6 linked regions of the Homo sapiens genome follow. The protein of the gene in region 4 purifies or fractionates together with the protein of the main gene of each other region. This does not show direct contact. Each region holds a gene or a part of one and is shown on either strand. Other genes may lie near its edges. The genes, in order: FLVCR1, UGCG, SLC26A2, SLC20A1, DCAF13 and MAP7D3.

Evidence for each region.
Region 1: the proteins of SLC20A1 (region 4) and FLVCR1 purify together in Homo sapiens (affinity purification with mass spectrometry; 2 studies listed by BioGRID and IntAct, with this or other methods). This does not show direct contact.
Region 2: the proteins of SLC20A1 (region 4) and UGCG purify together in Homo sapiens (affinity purification with mass spectrometry; 2 studies listed by BioGRID and IntAct, with this or other methods). This does not show direct contact.
Region 3: the proteins of SLC20A1 (region 4) and SLC26A2 purify together in Homo sapiens (affinity purification with mass spectrometry; one large-scale study listed by BioGRID and IntAct). This does not show direct contact.
Region 5: the proteins of SLC20A1 (region 4) and DCAF13 purify together in Homo sapiens (affinity purification with mass spectrometry; one large-scale study listed by BioGRID and IntAct). This does not show direct contact.
Region 6: the proteins of SLC20A1 (region 4) and MAP7D3 purify together in Homo sapiens (affinity purification with mass spectrometry; one large-scale study listed by BioGRID and IntAct). This does not show direct contact.

The regions. Positions count from the first base shown.
Region 1 is NC_000001.11:212,892,775-212,896,274, forward strand, and holds part of FLVCR1 (choline/ethanolamine transporter FLVCR1), read left to right. Parts: intron 1-2,211; coding exon 2,212-2,279; intron 2,280-2,441; coding exon 2,442-2,516; 3' UTR 2,517-3,500.
Region 2 is NC_000009.12:111,895,504-111,899,613, forward strand, and holds the start of UGCG (ceramide glucosyltransferase), read left to right. Parts: upstream 1-1,310; 5' UTR 1,311-1,712; coding exon 1,713-1,810; intron 1,811-4,110. UniProt on the Homo sapiens protein: Participates in the initial step of the glucosylceramide-based glycosphingolipid/GSL synthetic pathway at the cytosolic surface of the Golgi.
Region 3 is NC_000005.10:149,981,258-149,984,757, forward strand, and holds part of SLC26A2 (sulfate transporter), read left to right. Parts: coding exon 1-556; 3' UTR 557-3,500. UniProt on the Homo sapiens protein: Sulfate transporter which mediates sulfate uptake into chondrocytes in order to maintain adequate sulfation of proteoglycans which is needed for cartilage development.
Region 4 is NC_000002.12:112,648,939-112,652,438, forward strand, and holds part of SLC20A1 (sodium-dependent phosphate transporter 1), read left to right. Parts: intron 1-3,500. UniProt on the Homo sapiens protein: Sodium-phosphate symporter which preferentially transports the monovalent form of phosphate with a stoichiometry of two sodium ions per phosphate ion. May play a role in extracellular matrix and cartilage calcification as well as in vascular calcification.
Region 5 is NC_000008.11:103,425,386-103,428,885, forward strand, and holds part of DCAF13 (DDB1- and CUL4-associated factor 13), read left to right. Parts: intron 1-670; coding exon 671-760; intron 761-1,711; coding exon 1,712-1,867; intron 1,868-3,500. UniProt on the Homo sapiens protein: Part of the small subunit (SSU) processome, first precursor of the small eukaryotic ribosomal subunit.
Region 6 is NC_000023.11:136,248,601-136,252,882, reverse strand, and holds the start of MAP7D3 (MAP7 domain-containing protein 3), read left to right. Parts: upstream 1-1,482; 5' UTR 1,483-1,524; coding exon 1,525-1,594; intron 1,595-4,282. UniProt on the Homo sapiens protein: Promotes the assembly and stability of microtubules.

The sequences.
Region 1 (3,500 bases), on a different chromosome or scaffold from region 4:
CAAAGTAAATTGAGAACTTTCTGGAAAGGATGCACCATCCTAGATGCCATTAAGAACATTCTTGATTCATGGGAGGAGGTCAAACTATCAACATTAACAGGAGTTTGGAGGAAGTTAATTCCCATTCTCATGGATGATTTTGAGGTGTTCAAGACTTCAGTGGAGGAAATAGCTGCAGATGTGGTGGGAATAACAAGAGAACTGGAATTAGAAGTGGAATATGAAGAGGTAACTGAATTGCTGCATCTTATGGTAAAACCTGAAGAAATGAAGGGTTGCTTCTTTTTTTTTGGGGGGGGGTGCCGGAATGTTGCTGTGTTGCCCAGGCTGGAGTGCAGTGGCGTGATCTCGGCTCACAGCAAGCTCTGCCTCCCGGGTTCAGGCCATTCTCCTGCCTCAGCCTCCTGAGTAGCTGGGACTACAGGTGCCCGCCACCACGCCCGGCTAATTTTTTGTATTTTTTGTAGAGACGGGGTTTCACCATGTTAGCCAGGATGGTTTTGATTTCCTGACCTTGTGATCTGCCTGCCTCGGCCTCCCAAAGTGCTGGGATTACAGGTGTCAGCCACTGCGCCTGGCTGGGTTGCTTCTTATGGATAAGCAAAGAAAGTGTTTTCTTGAGTTGGAATCTACTAGTAAAGATGCTGTAAATGTTGAAATGACAACAAAGGATTTAGAATATTATATAAACTTAGCTGATGAAGCAGTGGCAGGGTTTGAGAGGATCAACTCCTGTTTTGAGGAAGTTTTGTGGGTAAAATGTTATCAAACAAGTATTGCACACAGAGAGATCTTTCATGAAAGGAAGAGTTGATTAATACGGCAAACTTCGTCACTGTCTTACTTTAAGAAATTGCCACAGCCGCTCCCACCTTTTAGCAACCACCACCCTGATCTGTCAGCAGCCATCAACATCAAGGCAAGACCCTCCACCAGCAAAAAGATAACTTGCAGAAGGCTTGGATAATCATTAGCATTTTTTAGCAGTAAAGTGTTTTTTGTTTTGTTTTGTTTTTTTGAGATGGAGTTTCGCTCTTGTTGCCCAGGCTGGAGTGGAATGGCGCCATCTGGGCTCACTGCAACCTCTGCCTCCTGGGTTCAAGTGATTCTCCTGCCTCAGCCTCCTGAGTAGCTGGGATTACAGATGCCCACCACCACAACCAGCTAATTTTTGTATTTTAGTAGAGATGGGGGTTTCACTATGTTGGCTAGGCTGGTCTCGAACTCCTGACCTCAAGTGATCCACCCGCCTCGGCCTCTCAAAGTGCTAGGATTACAGGCATGAGCCACTGAGCCTGGCCAGTAAAGTGTTTTTAAATTAAGGCATGTAGATTGATTTTTTTTTTTAGACATAATGCTATTGCAAACTTTAAATAGACTACAGTATAGTATAAACATAACTTTTTATGCACTGGAAAACCAAAAAATATGTGCAGTGGTGCGATCTCTGCTCACTGCAACCTCCACCTCCCAGGTTCAAGTGATTCTTCTGTCTCAGCCTCCCTAGTAGTTGGGACTACAGGTGCGTGCCGCCACGCCTGGCTAATTTTTTGTGTTTTTAGTAGAGATGGAGTTTCACCGTGTTGGCCGGGATGGTCTCGATCTTCTGACCTTGTGATCCACCCACCTCGGCCTCCCAAAGTGCTGGGATTACAGGCATGACCCACCACGCCCAGCAATATTCACTCTTTTGTGGTGATCTGGAGCTGAACCCACAATGTCTCTGAGATATACCTGCATTCCCTTCTGCCTAGAATGCCTTCCTCTCCTCTTGTCTGCTTGACAAGTTATTACTCAGTTTTTTCCAGTATCAAGTATGTCTTCTCTGGAAAGCCTTCTCTAATTTCCTTTGGCTGACATAGACTTTTTTTGCTCCCACTTCCCCACCATACCTTGCAATTATCACACACTGTTATACTTGTTTACATGTCAAAGTTTCCCTAGATTGGAGAGTCCTTTAAGAAAAAGAATTACACTTTTCATTTTTGTATCATTGGTTGCTAGCATTCCCGTATTTGTTCAATAATGAATGACTTATTAATTGTTAACAACTTTAGAGAGGTACTATTATTTTTTAGGCTGTTGGGATGCTATTAAATATCATGACACTACAGTGCATTAAATTTGACAATACCAAGAAAGACTTTGAGCTGCTTTTTAAAAAAATCTTCACATAACAGTTTATAGTAACTTGATGCCCCTCTGTTTCAGCATTAATCAAGTCTGATCTGCGAAGACACAACATAAATATAGGAATTACAAATGTTGATGTTAAAGCTGTAAGTAATATTTTTATGATTATACTGTTGAGAAGTATGTATAGAATAAATGTGAAACCATATTTTTTTATTTAGCTATTTTTCTCCCGAGTCAACTGTTGATCTGTTATAATAGGATATGCCAGATGCTATACATTTTTAATCTTCTGATTGTTTTTATAGATACCAGCTGACAGTCCCACAGACCAAGAACCAAAAACGGTTATGTTGTCCAAGCAGTCAGAATCAGCAATTTGAAGAGAAAGGCAAAGTTACTGTCCTGTAGTAATTGGGGACAATGTGATCATCCTTGGAGAGAGATGTGAGCACCAAGGCTGGGTTTGTATGTGGTGGGGGAATAAACACACTTACTTGAAAATTACCATATGAACTCTAAATGCATAATTATTATTTTGCTTAATTGTTAAATTAAGGGAAATTTTCTTAAAATTCTTCTGTTTACATCATGTTAACACTACTGTTTATCTAATTAGTATCCGGTTTTTAGTCTCATATTGTATCTGAAAGTAAGCTTCTTGACGTTTACTTTTTAAAAGTCGATGTTTTTCTTTTTTGTAGAAAATGGAAGCTTAGAATACTTTTTAAAGTGATAATATGGGGTGTTCAGTCCCCATAAGATATAATAGTTCATGCAGTTTATATATTAAAGTATCCAGTGGAACTAAATGTACAATATATTCCTAATTGGCTGCCTTTTTCACTGTGCTGACCAGCTGTTCAAGCCACTTCAGTTTGAGTACAACATACCAACATGACACTACTCACCCACAAAGGACAGCATTGGGATCAGGCTTTCAGATGACCTCTAAGATTTTTCCCATTTATTGTACTCTTGTTACAAAGTACTTTTTAACACATGCAGTCAATGGCTATAAAAACTATTCTGTGTACAGATTCTACCCAGACTTTGGTCTTAGAATTATGTTCTAATTAAGGAGCCTGGTTACAGGTTCATTCTGTCTTGAGTTCTTTTCTGTGCTGCCTTTCTATCATGGATAAATGCTAACGCTGTATTTTTTCACTCCAACTTGAGATAGAGTAGTTTTGTACCCATTGCCTTTTTTTTCTTTTAAACTCTCTTTTTTTTTTTTTCCTGATGTGTAACTTTCTAGTAAGATAATTTCATCATGTATGTTACTGGCTATTTCATGATTTCATGTATCACATCGTATATTTTGCCTTGAAGATTCCTGAAATAAGGAAATCTATAATAACTTCAGA
Region 2 (4,110 bases), on a different chromosome or scaffold from region 4:
ATTACAGGCGCCTGCCACCACGCCCGGCTAATTCTTTGTATTTTTAGTAGAGACGGGGTTTCACCATCTAGGCCAGGCCGGTCTTGAACTCCTGACCTCATGCTCCACCTGCCTCCGCCTCCCAAAGTGCTGGGACTACAGGTGTGAGCCACCGCGCCCAGCCACAACTTCTTTTCAAAATTGAATTCAATTCTGAAATATCTCAAGGGAGGTCATGGATTATTTAAAAGGAAATCACTTGCAACAATAAACATAAAACAATGCAGAAATAGTATAAACTCATCTAGATTGAAGAAACACAAACATTGAGTACTAGCATCTTCTTGGGATGACTTAAAATTAGGACAAATACTTAGTTACCTTACTACCCAAAGTGACATTTCTTCCCATTTTAGAGCTGTGCTGTCCACACGTACAATTAAAATTTTCTAGTAGCTAGCCAAAGTATTTAAAAAGAGAAATTAACTTAATAATTTACCTAATTTAATGTAGTATGTCCAAAATATTACCTTTTCAACATGCAATCAATATAAAATTTACTAACGAGATGGTCTTCCACATCTGGTGTACTGTTTACTCCACAGAGTGGCAAGCTGCCTTTCCAACCCTCACTTAGCCACATGCGGCTACCGTATTGGATGGCAGTCTTAGGGAATTTCAATATCAACTGATTCTTTAATTCTGAATTTGAGAATTTCTTTTTATAATACACACGGTCGCTAAGGCGCTTAGAGATCTGTGAGGCGCATGGAGATTATTTTACTCTCCGGTCCCTTTTGATCCAAGATCCCACAGCATTAAAAGCAGTAAGAGGGAAGGCAATGGGCATCCCTTGCGCCCAGGAACGTGGCCTGGAGGGCCTGGCTGCTCCGAGCAGTAGCAGTGCCCGGCGGGGAGGCTGCAGACGCGGCGTTGGAAGTTGGATTTCTAGACAAGCTCCGGCAGCTGCCCGGAACCCGTGTCTTTTTCTGGGGCACCCAGGAACAGCAGGGCCAGACGGAGAGAGAGCAGCCTCCAGCCAGGCACAGGGTCCCGAGCTGCCACCGACACCGAGGGAGCCCGGCCCAGGGCTGCAGCGCTTTCCGCCTAGGTGGGCGGCAGCGGGAGCGAGGAGCCGGAGGAAGCCCGGCCTGCGTCCTGCGGGCAGCAGGACACGATCTCCCCGGCGCGCTCTCGCCGGCGCCGCAGCGGGCGCGCGGGCGACAGGGTGGGCGTGGACCGATGGGGGCACCGCCCCTGGGAGAGGCGGGCGCCGCGGTTCCGGGGGCGGGACGCGCCGAGGAGTGGGGCGCGAGCCGCCGGTTTTGATTAGTGCGCGGAGCTGCGGCGGTGGAGCTGCTCGGCCGGGAGCCCGGCGGCGAGACGGAGAGGCGGCGGAGGTGCCCGCGCGCAGGGTCTGGTGGGCGGCCGCGAGGCTCGGGAGAGGCGAACCGGAGCGCGGGACCGCGGTCGCCCCGACCAGAGCCGGGAGACCGCAGCACCCGCAGCCGCCCGCGAGCGCGCCGAAGACAGCGCGCAGGCGAGAGCGCGCGGGCGGGGGCGCGCAGGCCCTGCCCGCCCCTTCCGTCCCCACCCCCCTCCGCCCTTTCCTCTCCCCACCTTCCTCTCGCCTCCCGCGCCCCCGCACCGGGCGCCCACCCTGTCCTCCTCCTGCGGGAGCGTTGTCCGTGTTGGCGGCCGCAGCGGGCCGGGCCGGTCCGGCGGGCCGGGGGATGGCGCTGCTGGACCTGGCCTTGGAGGGAATGGCCGTCTTCGGGTTCGTCCTCTTCTTGGTGCTGTGGCTGATGCATTTCATGGCTATCATCTACACGTGAGTGAGGGACCGCAGGAGGGGCTCGGGGCAGGGGTCCGGGCCTCGGAGACAGGCGAGAATGGGAAACGTTTGCGCTTTGAAGGGGACTGGGCTCGGGCGGGGGTGGAGAAAGCTGATCGTCAGGCTGTTCCCCCCGTTCCCTCGCCCCTCGGACCGGCGGTGGCGGTGGTCTTTGCGAGGGAAAAGTGTTGGGCGTGGGAAGGGTTTGCTGGGTTGCAGGCGACTGCCCAGCCAGGCTAAAGGAGACTGCTCTTACGTGTCAGGCTGAAGGTGGTGGCTTGGTTTGATTGTGCTGGGGATTCGTGTAATTTTTCATCTGGGCCGAGATGTATGGTGTATTGTTTTTTTCTCCCGACCTGGGCCACGTTTCTGTTAGGGTGGTGATTGTGTCCACTTTTCTGGGAGCTGCTCACAGCTATCTGGACACCTCTCTGTGGATTTTCTTCTTCCTGGAAGGGCTCTATGCGCTTAGATAGGTGTGAAGCACCTGTCCACCCTGAAAAATGTCCACCAAACCTCCGAGCTGGCATGATAGCTTTGAGTCCTGTCAGCTTGTACATCTCAGCGTGGTTTTCTTTCCTTTTTTCAGTTCCTCGTTTTATTGTTTTATGTAGATTTGTACTCTCCCCGTGCCGGCCACATCTTTTCATTTTTGTTTAACAAATACTTCTTGAGGCCTACTAGATACCATTCACTGTTATTGGCCAGGGGACATGGTGGTGAGCAGGACAGAATTCCTGTCCTCATGAGTCTTACATTCTAGAAGGAAGGAGCAGATAAAATCTAAATAAGGTTATGAGATTGTGACGAAGCGTGTAAGTAAAATAGAACTGGGTGATGGCGTGAATAGAGACATGGGTTATGTGGCTAGTTTGGTATATCCACTGTTTAAGGTGAAATCTGCCTCTGTAAAGAAATGAAAAAATTATATAGAGCACATTACTGATATCGATTCACTTGGATTTTTAGTCTGGGGGGAGAAAAGAGCAATTGTATATAGTAATCGTTACCATGAACTAGAATAGAGTGTATGTTAGTGGAAGAGACTTTAAGAAATTAGTTACTTTTAGTTTTTTGGTTTTTTTTTTTTCCTTTTTACTGCGGAAAAAGTGTGCCTTTGCTTTTGGAAACACTGTATTTTATTAGTATAGTGTGGCATTTCCTGGTACTGAGAAAGATGATGCTGGTACAGGTTATACTGATATTTCTTTGAAAGTGAAAGAAAACATGCCACTTGGATATTGTTGACTTTAGTTTTTGGAGTTGGTGAGCTTAGTCACAGCACATTCTGGAGTTCATTTAAAATATGTGAGTTCTTTTTCTTTAAAAAAATTGTTACTTTTTACCGTCATAAAAATAAAAAATGCTTACTGTGTAAGGAATTTATGCAATAGAGAGAGATGGAGAAAATTAAAATATGCACACACCAAAACTACATTACCTTGTTAACCTTTTGTGACTATCCTTCCAATCTGTGTGTGTGTGTGAGAGAGAGAGAAGGAGGGAGGGGAAGAGGGAAGAGAGAAAAGGACTATATTATGATTATTGTTCTGTAACCTGCTTTAAAGTTCATCTGTTTAATAAATGTTTATTGAAAAGCCGTTTTGTGCAAGGCACTGTTCTAGTTGCTGGAAGAGTGAAGAACAAACATACAAGGCCCCTGTTCACATGGAACTGTCCTGTAAAATGTCTTGACCGTTTTTTGCATGTCAATATCTGTATGATCTCTACATCATTTGTAATAGATGCATGATATTTTAGTTTACCAGGTACCAAGATTTATTTATTATTACTGATGGATGTTTAGGTTGTTTCCAATTTATCTAGATTACAAAGAACACTGTGATGAATTTATATGCATACATCTTTGAGAAATGATCTCATTTATATTTCCGAAAGAGGAATTATTGGGCCAGAAGTGGTGCACATTTTAAACTTTGATACATATTGGCCCCATGGAAATGTTATGTATATTCACAGTCCTGGTAACATTGTATGATGGCCCCATTTTGCCTTACAAACACTAAGTAGCAGGCATTTCACTGTTTTCTGTTTCTATTTTCATTCCTTTAAAGTTACATTGAGCACTTTTAAAATATGTTTATATGCTAGTTACATTTAGATGTAAATTACATACTCATAATCCTTTGCCTGTGCTGCAATCTGTTGCTGAATTCATCTTTCTGATATAAAGGTTGTTTTCTGTCACATGTAGCATTCTTTTCCCCAGTCTGTTTTTTGTCTTTTAACTTTGTACATATATTTGACATGGAGAAAAGTGTGTGTGCATGTGTGTT
Region 3 (3,500 bases), on a different chromosome or scaffold from region 4:
CTTGGTGGAAGAGTCTGAGGTCTTTGAATCTGTGTCTGCTTACAAGAACCTTCAGATTAAGCCAGGCATCAAGATTTTCCGCTTTGTAGCCCCTCTCTACTACATAAACAAAGAATGCTTTAAATCTGCTTTATACAAACAAACTGTCAACCCAATCTTAATAAAGGTGGCTTGGAAGAAGGCAGCAAAGAGAAAGATCAAAGAAAAAGTAGTGACTCTTGGTGGAATCCAGGATGAAATGTCAGTGCAACTTTCCCATGATCCCTTGGAGCTGCATACTATAGTGATTGACTGCAGTGCAATTCAATTTTTAGATACAGCAGGGATCCACACACTGAAAGAAGTTCGCAGAGATTATGAAGCCATTGGAATCCAGGTTCTGCTGGCTCAGTGCAATCCCACTGTGAGGGATTCCCTAACCAACGGAGAATATTGCAAAAAGGAAGAAGAAAACCTTCTCTTCTATAGTGTGTATGAAGCGATGGCTTTTGCAGAAGTATCTAAAAATCAGAAAGGAGTATGTGTTCCCAATGGTCTGAGTCTTAGTAGTGATTAATTGAGAAGGTAGATAGAAGAATGTCTAGCCAATAGGTTAAAATTTCAAGTGTCCAACATTTCCCAGTTCCACAGTGGGAAATTTTGCACACTTGAAATTTTAACCAAGTGGCTAGATATTATTCCTCCTTTGAAGCTAATGGCATTTGTATATACACACTGCAGCAGAGCTTGTAGCTGGACAGAGTCAAAAAGAAGAAAATACGGTTTCAGGCTTTCTTGCAGATATGAAGTATTCTTGGAATGCAATAAGTATGTATTGAACTGTACTGTAAAGTAGCTCCAAAACTTAATTACTCTCCTGTTTTAGGGGTTATACATTTGGACTGTGCATTCTCCAAGAGATGAAGCGGTGAAGTTGGGATTTACATTGGAAGTGCTGTAGACTTCTTTATGTGGCTCAGTGGAGAGAGGGAAAGAATGTTGCACCTGCTCTAGTACCATAGGTCAAGAGGCTTCTGGATCACAAAGTCATAACTAGACAGGTTTGTTCTTGTAGTTTTCTATCCCCAGTCTTTGCTCCCCAGATGGCAGTAGTTTTTAGTAGGAAAGTGCCATTCCTGTCCTTAAGGCACAGTCTCATCAGAAGTCTAATACCTGGGCAGGTTTATAACATCCTGAGAGCCAGCCTGACATTAGACAGAATACCCTTTGTAATACATTGGAAATTTTTACTCATGCCTTTTTGTTTAGGATAAATAGGTAAGCACAAAGAGCTCTTCAAAATCAGAAAAAACAATAGGAGTCCTTCCTTGTCTTTTCTGTGATCTCTGTCCTTGTTTCTGAGACTTTCTCTACCATTAAGCTCTATTTTAGCTTTCAGTTATTCTAGTTTGTTTCCCATGGAATCTGTCCTAAACTGGTGTTTTTGTCAGTGACAGTCTTGCCAGTCAGCAATTTCTAACAGCATTTTAAATGAGTTTGATGTACAGTAAATATTGATGACAATGACAGCTTTTAACTCTTCAAGTCACCTAAAGCTATTATGCAGGAGGATTTAGAAGTCACATTCATAAAACCCAAGTGCTATGGGTGTATTATTCATGATAGCTGGCCCACAGGTCATGAATTGAGGAGGAATTTGCTTTCAAAAAGCAAGAATGTCCAACACTGAAAGTTTATAGTTTTATATTTGGACCTTGAAAGGTAAGAAAAAACCAGGTTCTCCAAAGTTAGGAATAGGGAACTAATTTATGAAACAGCCATCTTAAAAAAAAAAAAAGTAAACTGCAAAAGTACAAAATCATTTTTCAATCTGTTCCCAGTTTCTAAACAATTTTAAATATTTATGAGAAGCAAACCCTATGTGTAGGGCATCTGTTGGAGTGGGATGCTTTTAGACATATATTAAGTATGTACATGTTTAATATGTATATTTAAAATGCATATATATTTTATTATATCTATATTATCCTATATAGATATATGTAACTTAGCTTTATTGTTAGCTCCATAAGCTGCCAGTGTTGCTTTTCTGTTGGTAGAGCTCTCCCATTTGGTGACATGGAAAATACCTTTCCATTATCACAACAAAGCAGTTGCTCAGTAGAAAGTCTAGATTTCTGTCTTATAGGTGATTTCTGTCTTATAGGTGATTATAATCAAGTGTAGGCTTCCTGAATTTTGACATCCTTTTAGAACTTGGGTCTGGAATTCCAGAAATGTTAATTGCTGCTTGTATTTGTTCTTGTTTGTTTTTTAGCCAGTATTTGCCCTTTCTATCCAGCCTTATGAATAATAGCAGTAAAATCACAGTATCTTGGTCAGTCTTTATTTTTTTCCTTTTTTCTTTTTTAAGAGACAGTCATCCAGGCCAGAGTGCAGTTTGATGATAGCTTACTGAAGCTTCCCACTCCTGGGCTCAAGTTATCCTTCCATTTTGGCCTCCTGAGTAGCTAGACCATAGGTATGCATCACCACACCCTGCTAATTTTTTAAATTTTTTTCTAGAGAGAGGGTCTCACTGTGTTGCCCAGGCTGGTCTCAAACTCCAGGCTCAAGCAATCCTTCAGCCTCAGCCTCCCAGAGTGTTGGGATTACAGGCGTGAGCCACTGCACTTGGCCAAGTTATTTATTTTTAATCTCTCTTGCCCTTCTCCCAAGGCAGGCTTAAGTTGAGACTATTATAGGTGTCTAATAACCTGTGACAGAGTAATGAGTACATGCTTAAGATGTTATAATTAGCCAACACCAACACAGCAAAAAATATAATTCCAGCCAAAGATTCTGGAAAATCCCTCAGAAGGAGGGATAACAGGATTTGACCTTTACCAGCGATTTCTGTCCATATGTGGATGTAAACAGTTCTGGAACGTTATGCATGCAGTTAGCGAATCCTTGAATTATGTTCTGGTTTGTACTTGTCCCATCCATCCAAACAAGAGATTCTGCTTTTGGTAGCCATCTGTAGAAACATTTAAGATGTCACTAGAATTTACATTTCATCCTCTCTACTTGGGTTGAGGTTGCCTATACTTGCATATTGTTAAAATGTTTTGGTTGCTGATATTCAGAGGAATGAAACCTGGAACCAAAGCCTAATTTGCCGATAAAAAAACTGTTTTCGGCCAGGTGCAGTGGCTCATGCCTGTAATCCCAGCACGTTGGGAGGCCGAGGCGGGTGGATCACCTGAAGTCAGGAGTTCGAGACCATCCTGGCTAACACTGTGAAACCCCGTCTCTACTAAAAATACAAAAAATTAGCGGGGCATGGTGGCACGCGCCTGTAGTCCCAGCTACTCAGGAGGCTGAGGCAGGAGAATTACTTGAACCCGGGAGGCGGAGGTTGCAGTAAGCAGAGATTGTGCCACTGGACTCCAGCCTGGGTGACAGAGCGAGACTCCGTCTCAAACAAACAAACAAAAAACTGTTTTCATTTGCTCTCTTGACCAAAGGATAGGACTTTAGTTCTTTAAGCATTATTTTAAACACTATATTGATACAAA
Region 4 (3,500 bases):
GAACTGTATATCTTGCTACTTAGCAGAGAGTCAGAAGCATTAGTAGGATCTCCTGTTGTGAATTCCTGCTTGGTAAAGGTTTATGCTGGCCCTGTGTTGATTATTGAGTAGCAGATCATTTTGTTTTTGGAGAGGGTTTGTGTGTTTCACCTCCACAAAACACTTATTCCCCGGAAGGGGAATGGTGGTGCTCTGAGGTGCAAAGAGGGATTCTCAGGTGCCCAGAACCTCTCATTTGAGGAATGCATACCCCCACGGTGTTATTGAGGGCTGAAGTTAGATACGGTAACTGATTTCTTAATTGTATATTTCCTATATGGGTATGGGAATGGGCATGATCAAATGATGAAGAATGATTGGCATAGTGTTTAAAACAATATTGACTTTGAGGATCTTCCCCCACTCTGTGCACGTGCACACACACACTCTTGCAGGCCAATCCCTCAGTAACAGGAGTTTTCAGTTGAGTATGAATATTTCTGCTTCCTTTTAGGAGTTAAATTTCAAGAAAATATCCTTAGACTGGTAAGCTTTTGGTATCTTAACTGCTAAAATCTGAATATTTGACCATTAAGATATATTCCAACTCTTAAATGTCTATCTTGAAAATTAAGATTAACATGACCTTTTTTTTTAATTTCAAAAAATTGCTTTTAAACATTTTCTATTCTCTGAATGTTTGTTCCAAGCATGTTGGGGATAGGTGGGAACAGACAGAATGGAGGTGAGGTACTTCTATTTAGGACTGGCATCGCACAGAAGGAATATGCTTCAGTGCTCCTGTTGAGTATTTTTAAATTCTAGTCAAAGAAAATAGGGCTTTTGGCATTCTCATTAGTTAGAAATATATTTAGGATGTCTTCCCTTTTCTTTAGACAAAACCAGAATATCCAATATGTAAAAGTGAACTATTCTGGTGAAGATGGGGGGTTTTGTGAAGACCTTTCCTGTCCCACATGACTAGACGATGAGGCATTCACATTATTTCCAGGTGAAGTTTTACTTGTGTGTTAGGTGGATCTCTACAATGATGAGACCTTTCTTGTTTTACCTTCTTCCTAGACTCTCTGGAACTTTTGATTTTTTTTTAACCATGAACCTGTATTTCACAATAAACTATTGGTATAGTAGTGTCATTCATACCCTACCCCATCCCCAACAACTTTGCGTAGAGAATACCTCAGATTTGTTTACCTCAGGGAATACTTAATTGGGCTATGCTATACAGGATAATAAATACACAGGCTGCTACTTCAGACTAGTCAATTACAATTTGATTTATGGATAATCATATTACGAAATATCTTTGAAAATCTATTGAGAAGTCCCCACATAATGTCTTTAAAACCCAGGAAATTTTTGGGGGTGGGAGTCTTGGGTTGGGTTTTTTGGAGCCTTTTTTTTTTTTTTTTGAGACGGAGTCTCACTCTGTTGCCCAGGCTGGAATGCAGTGGCACGATCTGGGCTTACTGCAACCTCCGCCTCTCGGGCTCAAGCAATTCTCCTGCCTCAGCCTCCTGAGTAGCTGGGATTACAGGCGCCACCACACCCGGCTAGTATTTTTGTATTTTTGGTAGAGACGGGGTTTCACCACGTTGGTCAAGCTGGTCTTGAACTCCTGACCTCAGGTGCTCTGTCCGTCTTGGCCTCCCAAAGTGCTGGGATTACAGGCTTGAGCCACTGCACCTGGCTTTTTTTTTTTCTTAAGCGAAGTCTCGCCTGTCACCCAGGCTGGAGTACGGTGACTTAATTGTAGCTCACTGCAGCCTTGACCTCCCAGGCTCAAGTGATCCTCCTGCCTCAGCCTCCAGAGTAGCTGGGACTATGGGTGTGTGCCACCACATCTGGCTAACTTTTTATATTTTATAGAGGTGGAGTCTTGCTCTGTTGCTTAAGTTGGTCTTGAACTTCTGGGCTCAAGCCATCCCCTGCCTCATCCTCCCAAAGTGCTAGGATTACAGACAGACATGAGCCACCACCACACCTGACCTGCATTTTCTTAAGACTAGTCTTTAGAATAAAAATACACACCTTAGTTTCCTAATCTTGTTGACTGCCCTCAGAGTTTGACCACCGTTGAGTTAGTTATTCAAGGATGCTTAACAGTTCTTGATTTCTGTATGCTATTGTTTTTGTTTTGGCTATTTCACTATCTGTTAACATTCTCTATTAAACTATAGATAAGAGTTAAATTTTAGAGTGGTTTTCAATGAGTGCTCATCTCTGCTAATTTGAAATGGTACCTTTACTTTACACATGGGTCTGAGCTTTCCCTTGTTTCACTGGTCTTAAGCTACTAACTTTCCAGTGTATTGATTATTGTTGGAAGCTGTAGGGTTTTACTTTCTGTTTTTCCTCCCCAAGATTTTCCACTGGAATTGTGATCAAGATAACATTAAACCTTTTAGGCTAAGGTCTTTATAAAGTTTTTAGCCTTCCCATATATGTATTCAGATCTTTGCTCCCAATTTTTTTTTTTTTCTGAGATGGAGTCTTACTCTGTTGCCCAGGCTGGAGTGAGGTGGCCCAGTCTCCACTGACTGCAACCTCTGTCTCCCAGGTTCAAGTGATTCTCCTGAGTCAGCCTCCAGAGTAGCTGGGACTACAGATGCTTGCCACCACATCCGGGCTAATTTTTTTGGTATTTTTAGTAGAGACAGGGTTTCACCGTATTACCCAGGATGGTCTCGATCTCCTGACCTCATGATTGTCCTGCCTCGGCCTCCCAAAGTGCTGGGATTACAGGTGTGAGCCACCGCGCCCAGCCTCCTCCCATTCTTTCGGTGTTTGACTTGGGTGTTCTCCTATAGAATTAATACATACTAGGTATGGTAGAATTCTTATTTTTAGTCACTGGCCTTACTGTTCCTTAAACATTTCAAGTTTTTGCCTTAGGGCCTTTGCATTTGCTGATATCTCTGTCTGGAACATTCAGCGCCCAAATAATCAGGTGGTTTGCCCCTTCTGTACCCATAGTTAATGTACACAGCTTGCTAGCTTACTACATTTATGTCATGCTTATTCCTTGACCCTCCCCACCCAAATGGTGCCCCCCCTTCCATCACTCTCCTCTTACCCTTCTTTATTTCTCTTCACAGCATTTGTCAGTACTTTACATTATTCCATACTAGAAGGTGAGTGTCAGTTCTATTAGAACAGGAACTTGGTCTTATTCCCTCCTATATTTCGGTGCCCAGAATAGCACTTGGCACACAGTCTTTTGAGTGAGTGGATGACCTTGTGCACAATCAGTTATTATCATTGAACTTCGGTAAAGCATTAATTGTGGCATCTTTGTCAGATGTTTAGATAAGATGGTTGGCGTACGCATAGTCTGCATGTTGTATTTTTAGTCTTTGAAGATATGAAGTCAGGTAAGCAACATCCTAACATAGTCTATTTCTTGACATCTCTTACAAACGTAGAGTATAGCCTATCCTCAGGTGTGTGCTGAAGTTTATATTAGGGCTTTTGGGTACCTTAGAATGTGGGTATTGCAA
Region 5 (3,500 bases), on a different chromosome or scaffold from region 4:
CGTGCCAACAGTTTTGCTCACTGTTGCTTTTTTACTATTTGTGCAGCTGTCAGCACAGTGAAAAGACAAACTATGTCTTTACTAACATTATGAAAATAGTTTTGACTGTGTGGACCCTGAAAAGTTCTCAGGGTCCTCCAGAGGCCCAAAGTTCACAGTTTGAAAACCACTGACTTAGTAGTTTCTGCAGTTCATGCAGAAAAGGACTTTATCTATTTCAATATTATAACAATGCCTTCTCTCCAGTATTTTCATGTTTTTCATTTTATTTTTTACATTTAAAATTACCTGGAATTTTATTTTCACATAAGGCATCAAATTGGCTCAATTTTTTTGAATGACTAACCAGATATTATAATACCATTTTTTATAATCCATTTTTTCTCCAAGTTGAAATGCCATGTTTATCACAATATGCATGACCTAACTTTGCCCCTGTTCTTGTTTTTCTTTTGCTCTACTCATTATATTTTTAGTTTTATGTACTTTATGTATTTGTCACAAATCTTTACTAAAACAAGGTGGGATATAAATGGATCAATAAGTGTAATACTGGAATGATATGGTATGTTACCTGTTTTAAACAAGATACTTATTTGATATGTGTTGGCAAGTTTTAATTTATAACTGTTGTTCCTTACCATCATCATAATAAAACAAATATTTCTAGGTTGGTGATGACAAAACTGTGAAGCAGTGGAAAATGGATGGGCCAGGCTATGGAGACGAGGAAGAGCCATTACATACAATATTAGGAAAGGTACAAAAGTAAATTGACTAATAGCTTGCCTATTAACATTCTTTTATTTAAAATTATTTTATAGTTATAATTTCCTAAGATGGGGAAGAAGATGCAGATAAGAAACGAAAGACTTTAGGCTGTAATTGTTGACCCATTTACGCAATATTTAATGCAGCTAAAGTCCTTTGATGCTAAAGAATTTTAACAGTTTTTTTTTTTTTTGGTATTCATTGTAGTAGAGTTTGATTTCTGTTTTTAGCCAGAGGATACAATGAAACATTTCCCATGGGAAGACCACGGAGAAAAAGATAGAAGTTCAGAAAATGCTTCAGCTTGTCTAGTTGATGTCATCATAGATCTTACACAAAACTCAGAATTTCTTAGTTGAAAGACTCCTTTAAGAAATGAAGAAATTTAATAGTATTATGCATCATGTATAAATCTTATTAATGTTTCTACCAAATTATTCTGCAAATCAGGTGATGGGTGGTTTAGTTTTAGCATAAGAATAATTTAGAACATTTGGTCTATCCATGTTTTATAATGTTTACATTTTTATATTAAGCAAACAATTCCAAAATTAGATTTAATCTTTAAATTAAATCTACCTTTTAAAAATCACTTTGTCGTTTCAATATTATGGTTAGTATATAATATTTAGGTTCTGCTTTAGGTTTCAAGAAGACTAAATGTTCTTAAAGGGATAGGGGAATGGGGTATGAGTATGAGGTAGAGATAATTTGTAGTTGGAAACACGTTAGTAATTTCTAAAACAAAATTGGTTTCATTCTTAAAATGTCTTGTCTCATTATGGTATTGTTTCCCCCTTTAAGTAAGGACTTCAAAGAAGTTTCTTTGTGAACAGGGCTTTTCTCTAAAAAGATAGTATAGATAAATATATTTAAAATATTATTCTGCAGATTTGAATTAGTAATGAAAAAAATCCTCTTAACCTTTTTGCTTTTAAAGACAGTGTATACTGGGATTGATCATCACTGGAAAGAAGCTGTTTTTGCCACATGTGGACAGCAAGTAGACATTTGGGATGAACAAAGAACTAATCCTATATGTTCAATGACCTGGGGATTTGACAGTATAAGTAGTGTTAAATTTAACCCAATTGAGGTAATGTTTTTTTTTAAGTATGTTTTACTTATTATGGCTTAATAATTTCAGTTCTGTTTAGAAAACTTTTGAATGTATGATAGAAACTTCTGAATTTTAATGGTGTTTTGGCATTTTGTCAGTTTTCCCGATTGTAAATGAGTTCTGATACCTTTGCTCAAATCCCAACATGTTTCCCAGCAGTTTAGTCCCAGATACTAGAGTTAAGCATTGTTAGAGGAGTGGTGTGTGCATTTGCCCATTGGGGTAAAATCCAAGTAAATATAGTCTTGTTTTAACTTTAGTTTTACTCATGCCTTCAACTTCATGTTCCATAGATTATGTCATTGTACATTTAGGAAAATGTTAATTTTTCTACCTGCCTTGGAGGTCAGAAGAAGGAGCATTGGACATCATTTTGTCTATTTGTAATTGGTAAGGTACCAATGCTTCATAAAAACATTTGTGATTATTGTTGAACTGCATGGTAATTAGTTATAGTTATATTTTTCTTTGCTCAGAAGTCTGAATTGTGATTCCCAGTTCCTCCAGGCCTAAGGGAAGAGTTGGAGATTGGCCACTACATGTCGTCTGTTTAGGTCTGAATTTAGGAATGGAGGCTGTCCTGAAGGCTAAGCTAGCCCTTGGACTCCAGATCTTTCTCTGAACTTTTTCTTAATGCATAACAATAGATGAACTGATTGTCCAGAAGACTCAGTAGGGATATGTTTTTCCTGTTGAAAGAAAAGGCAATCATAGCATATATAAGCCAATTTTAGCAGTTATTGCGAGGCTACCATTTTAGGTAGTATGAGAGAAAAATCCTAATATGCAAGTGTTATGCTCTTAAAGACCCAACCTGATAAAAGATAGGAAGTAAGGTTGAGTCAAAATAGTAAGGTATAAAAATAGTTTGTATGATATACTGGAAAATGAGATGCTGCAGTGCGATGTGAGCTTGGCCTTGAGGAATTACTGAGAAGTCAGAGGACACTCTTCCTGCAACTACCACATGCTCACACACACACTTTCTAGAGACGCTACAGGTCTAGAATAGGTTGGCAAACTAGTCTGTGAGCCACATGTGGCCCACTGCCTGTTTTTGTAAATAGAGCTCTGCTAGAAGACAGCCATGTTCTCTTGCGTACATATTGTCTGTAGCTGCTTTCGTGCTATGATGGCAGAGTTAAGTAATTGCCACAGAGACCATATGGCCCACAAAACCTAAAATACTTACTCTCTGGCCCTTTACAGAAAAAGTTTTCTGATTCCTGGTCTGGAGTGTCTGTCTCTATTATATCTTTCTCACTCCATCCTCCATCTTCCTTCCTTATGTTTCCCTTGGTTGTAGAAGAGAGAAGTGGCATGGAAAGGCAGCTACCTTTGCAGAGCAGGACCAAGTGTAAAAGTTGATAACATATGTGAACATTTTTTAAAAGTGCTATCCAAATTCAAGATGGTGACGGTATTACGTACTAAAAAAAAAACACAAAAAAACCTAAACAGACACTGGTTCTTACTATTTAGAGGAACAAAAAAATCTTTTGCTTCTCTGCTTTGGTGAACATCTGTGTCAGAAGAGCCGATCACCAATTCTAAAATCGTAATTATTAGGGATGACCTAGTGACCATGTTTTTCAAACTTGCCTGTATA
Region 6 (4,282 bases), on a different chromosome or scaffold from region 4:
CAGGTTATCCACCTGCCTGGGCCTCCCAAAGTGCTGGGGCTGGGATTACAGGTGTGAACCACCGTGCCTGGCCCCCCACTTGTATTAATCTACATCATCGCAAACACTTATTGACCACGTTTTAATTTTTGTTAAAATTGTAGGTGCAACGTAATGTCTTTTTTTTCTTTTTCTTTTCTTTTCTTTTTTTTTTTTTTTTTTTTTTTGAGACAGAGTCTCGCTCTGTCACCCAGGCTGGAGTGCAGTGGTGCTATCATGGCTCACTGCAAACTCCACCTCCCGGGTTCAAGCGATTCTCCTGCCTCAGCCTCCCAAGTAGCTGGGATTACAGGCACCCACCACCATGCCCGGCTAATTTTTGTATTTTTAGTAGAGTCGGAGTTTCACCATGTTGGCCAGGCTAGTCTCGAACTCCTGACCTCAAATGATCCACCCACCTCAGCCTCCCAAAATGCTAGGATTACAGGCATGAGCCACCGTGCCTGCCCCATATTACATATTATATATATTATATATTAATATATGTAACTTATGCTATCATTGCTAACATATGTAATATATGCTATTATTAGCTTCTTCCATTTTACAGCTCCCATGTCATTTGGAGACTCAGTGGTCTCGCCAAAGTGCCCATCTCACAAGTGGTCCAGCCCCATTTTGGGATCTCCTGCACCACACTTAATGGCCCCAACCATAAACTGCGTGCCTACAACTATGTCACTACACACACACTCACAACAGTGGTGACTCCACCTCATAAGGGCAAGCCCCCATGAAGTGAGGTCTGCCCCTTAAAGGAGCCTCAGGCCAATGACGGTTTTCCTTGTGAATGGGAAAAACATTCTGCAACCTGGTAGAGTCTCTCCCAAAATCCGGAGAGATTGATGCCAATAAGTCCTCTGCCTCTCTTTGAAGACTCACAAACATCTTAAAGATATTTCACCCAACTTTGAGACCTATGTGTCATGATTTATTGTGCAACAGTTTAGGGAAGCCTACTCATGATGGGGCCCCTAGCACCTCAAAGCAAGCCTGCGACTCCCAACCTCTCCCTAGGCTTCTTCCCCCAACTTGGGTCTTTCTTTGTGTAATGTTTCAAGGACTAGTAAACTCATGATACAAGCGCACCCAGGAGGCACGCCGTAAATGTTCTTTAAATGAATGAATGAATGAGGAAGGAATGTTACTGTGTTGCTAGGTAAAGGTGAAGAAAGGAATGTTGGGGGGGCCAAGCTGGGTGCTGATTGGCTAGTCCTCACAATGCAGTAGGGGCAGAGCACGGAACATAGGAGAGGGTTTCTTTAGACCAGGTAGTCGCTGCCCAGCCGGTCAGGACGTGGGACGCAAGGGGCAATCCTGCCCGGTTCGCAGGTCCGAGGCGGGCGCGGTGGCCCTTCGGGCCCCGCCCCGCCCCGCCCCGCCCCGCCCCGCCCACCGGCAGCCCGGCCACGACCCAAGCGGAGGCCGCGCCGACGCCTGCGCAATGTATGCGGAGAGCCACCACCGCCTCCGGTCCCGACTCCGATGATGGCGGACGGCGCCGCAGCTGGCGCTGGCGGCAGCCCATCCTTGAGAGAGCTGCGGGCACGGATGGGTGAGCGGGCGGGTGGCTCCCGGGGGTGGTTCGGGCCCGCGTGGGAGGCAGGGTTCCCGCAGTCCCCGGGCCGTCGGAGCGGCGCAGCGGGCGCCACAAAACTTTTCCCTGGAGTCGCCTCGTGCTATCTGGTCCTCCCCTCACCCCCGCCGGAGTGCCCTGGGATGGGACAGGGGCGGGGGCGGGGGGTTGAAATTGTCAGCCGACGCCGCGAGCCGCCTGAGTCCCGCCGCCAACGGTCGAACTGCCGCTGCCAACGGTCTGAGCCCCGCGGACGCGGCGCGAGGCAACTCACGGGCTCTGCTTCGACGGGCGGGGCGGGGGCGGCTGGAAGCCGGACCCCGCGGACCGCCCCGTGCCCCATCTGCCCTTGGGGGGCGGTGGCCGCCCGCGCAACCGCCCCAACGAACGCACAGCTGCCTGGGATGTGCGGGCGCCCGCAGGGACTCCGCGCGCCGGCGCCGCCTCCGCCGCCAGGCAGCCTTTCCAGGCACGGAAAGTTTGAGTTATCCCCCAGCCCGGGTCGTGGGCGAGTTTAGGCGCTTTTACTGTCGCAGTCCTTGCCTCTCCCAAAGGCTTACCTCCTGCACCCTCCCGGTCAAGGTCCAGGGAGGAAGCTGGGTGAGGGTGGGGATGCTTAAAAGTTGCTTTAAAAGTTGGGATGAAACTTGGCTCTTTGCATCTCCTGATTTGCCTGCTGTAGCACATGACTTCAACAAGATGTCATCTTCTGTGGGACATCTTGCAGTCTCTAGGCTGAACTGAACGGGAATCAGCACTTCAGAGTGCTTTTTCCTCAACTAGTCCCATCGCCAAAACGTTTTTCCCTCCTCGAAAACCGTTAATCTTATACAATTTGACAGCACATTGCTTGGTCCAGGAGACTGCTCCACTACCTGAGATAGGATTTCTTCCTTTCAGGAGGTTGCTTTTAGCCTGTTAGACTAGTTCCCTCTGCTATGAGCGCGAATAAAACGATTTTATTAATTTTAATTGAATTTCTTAGGGGTTTTTTTGCATTTGCAATTAAAAAGTTAGATTGTTTACGATTGGGAAGCTATATGTTACTTGAGAAGACTTTGAATCAGCTCTCCAAAGACTGTGTCAGAAGCATATACTACATACACTTTCACCATTCATTAGGGAGAAAAGAATCTTCCTTCCGTGTCTATACTTATGGTTCACCTAGAAAGACAGTCTCCAATAAATTGTGTTGCTTATTGGTACCTGTGGCTCTCAGGCACTGGTTTATTTCAGTGATTTAGATTAACCAGCATTACTCCAATATGGTGAAGAAGCTGTGAACCGGATAAACCCCTAAAAGCATTTGTATATCAGATGTTGGAAAGTGTTTTAAAATTATATATGGGACAGATACTGGAATTCACAGCATTTCAAACCAAAAACTTAAGAGCCATGTAAAAGTCTTAACCTAGGACCCTGGTTTAAAACCTTGCTGCCCACTTCATGTTAGGAATTGTAAATATCGCATGTTAGACTTTTTTCACAGAGCACCAACTTGACCAGAACTGCCCTTTAGATCTCAGCGTTTTCCTGAAGGGGTCAAGGAGACAGATGTTTTTGCTAAAATGTTGTTTTCATCTTCTGCTGGCAGTCTGGCAGCAAGAGTTAAAACTGTCTTGAATACATAACATATAAATGCATAGCACAGTCAAAATACATTTATTTTATACATTTATGTATGCATGCAATAGATACATGTATATATATATGTGTTACATATAAAGTGTAAATATATATTTGTTGAGTGATGTTTTCTGTGCATAGCACTGTGCTGAGGTTGTAGCATACCAAATATTTAACAAAACACGTGTTTATATTTTTATGCAGAATTGTTTTAAAATAAAAATTTATTTGAATATTTCAACCAGATGAGCATAAGAAACTTGCCACTGACGTATCACCTTTCCCTTCTTGTTTTTCTAAATTCACCAGTGTTTCTCAGTTTAGAATAACTTTTTCAAAGAATAATTTCTACCAATGCAGAAAAAGCTACGGAGATTGACAGCTAGATTATCATAGAATTTTAGAGTTGGAGAAACCTTAAGATGATCTTGTCAGGCATCCAGAGTCCCAGCTGTAAAATCCTGGGGCACTTCTGCCACTTGAATGGGCACTCTCATGAGGAGCTTAATATTTTTCCAAGTAGCCATTCCATTGTAGACAGCTCTAAATGGTAGAAAATTGTCTCCAGTTTTGTCTTCAAGACATGCTATCTTTGGTTTGAACTTGGAGGTCTTCTGAAAGTCTCAGCCCTATGACTTTGGCTTTTGCTATTTGAGGCAAAATTCTGTGAATCTGCCTGATTTTTATGGTTCTCTGATGGCAGATTTCTTTTCCTGTTATTTTTTCTTAATATTTCAAAATAAAGTTGCTTTGAAATTTACAGTTAAATCAAGTTCTGGCTTCACCACTTACTACCTGTGTGAACTGGGAAAGTTATGTTTAGCTTCAGTTTTTTCAACTATAAAAAAAATTGGGGAAAATAATTACGTCCACTTTATAGGATTGTTGTAAGAATTACATGAAGTAATACAAATGAACTTTGTAAATGGTGAAATGGTATATAATATGTGTTATGGAAGTTTTTAGAAAAGTTCTATAAATACAGATTAAGATTCATAATTCAGTTTTAGTAATACACTACACATTTTCTTATTTAATCTC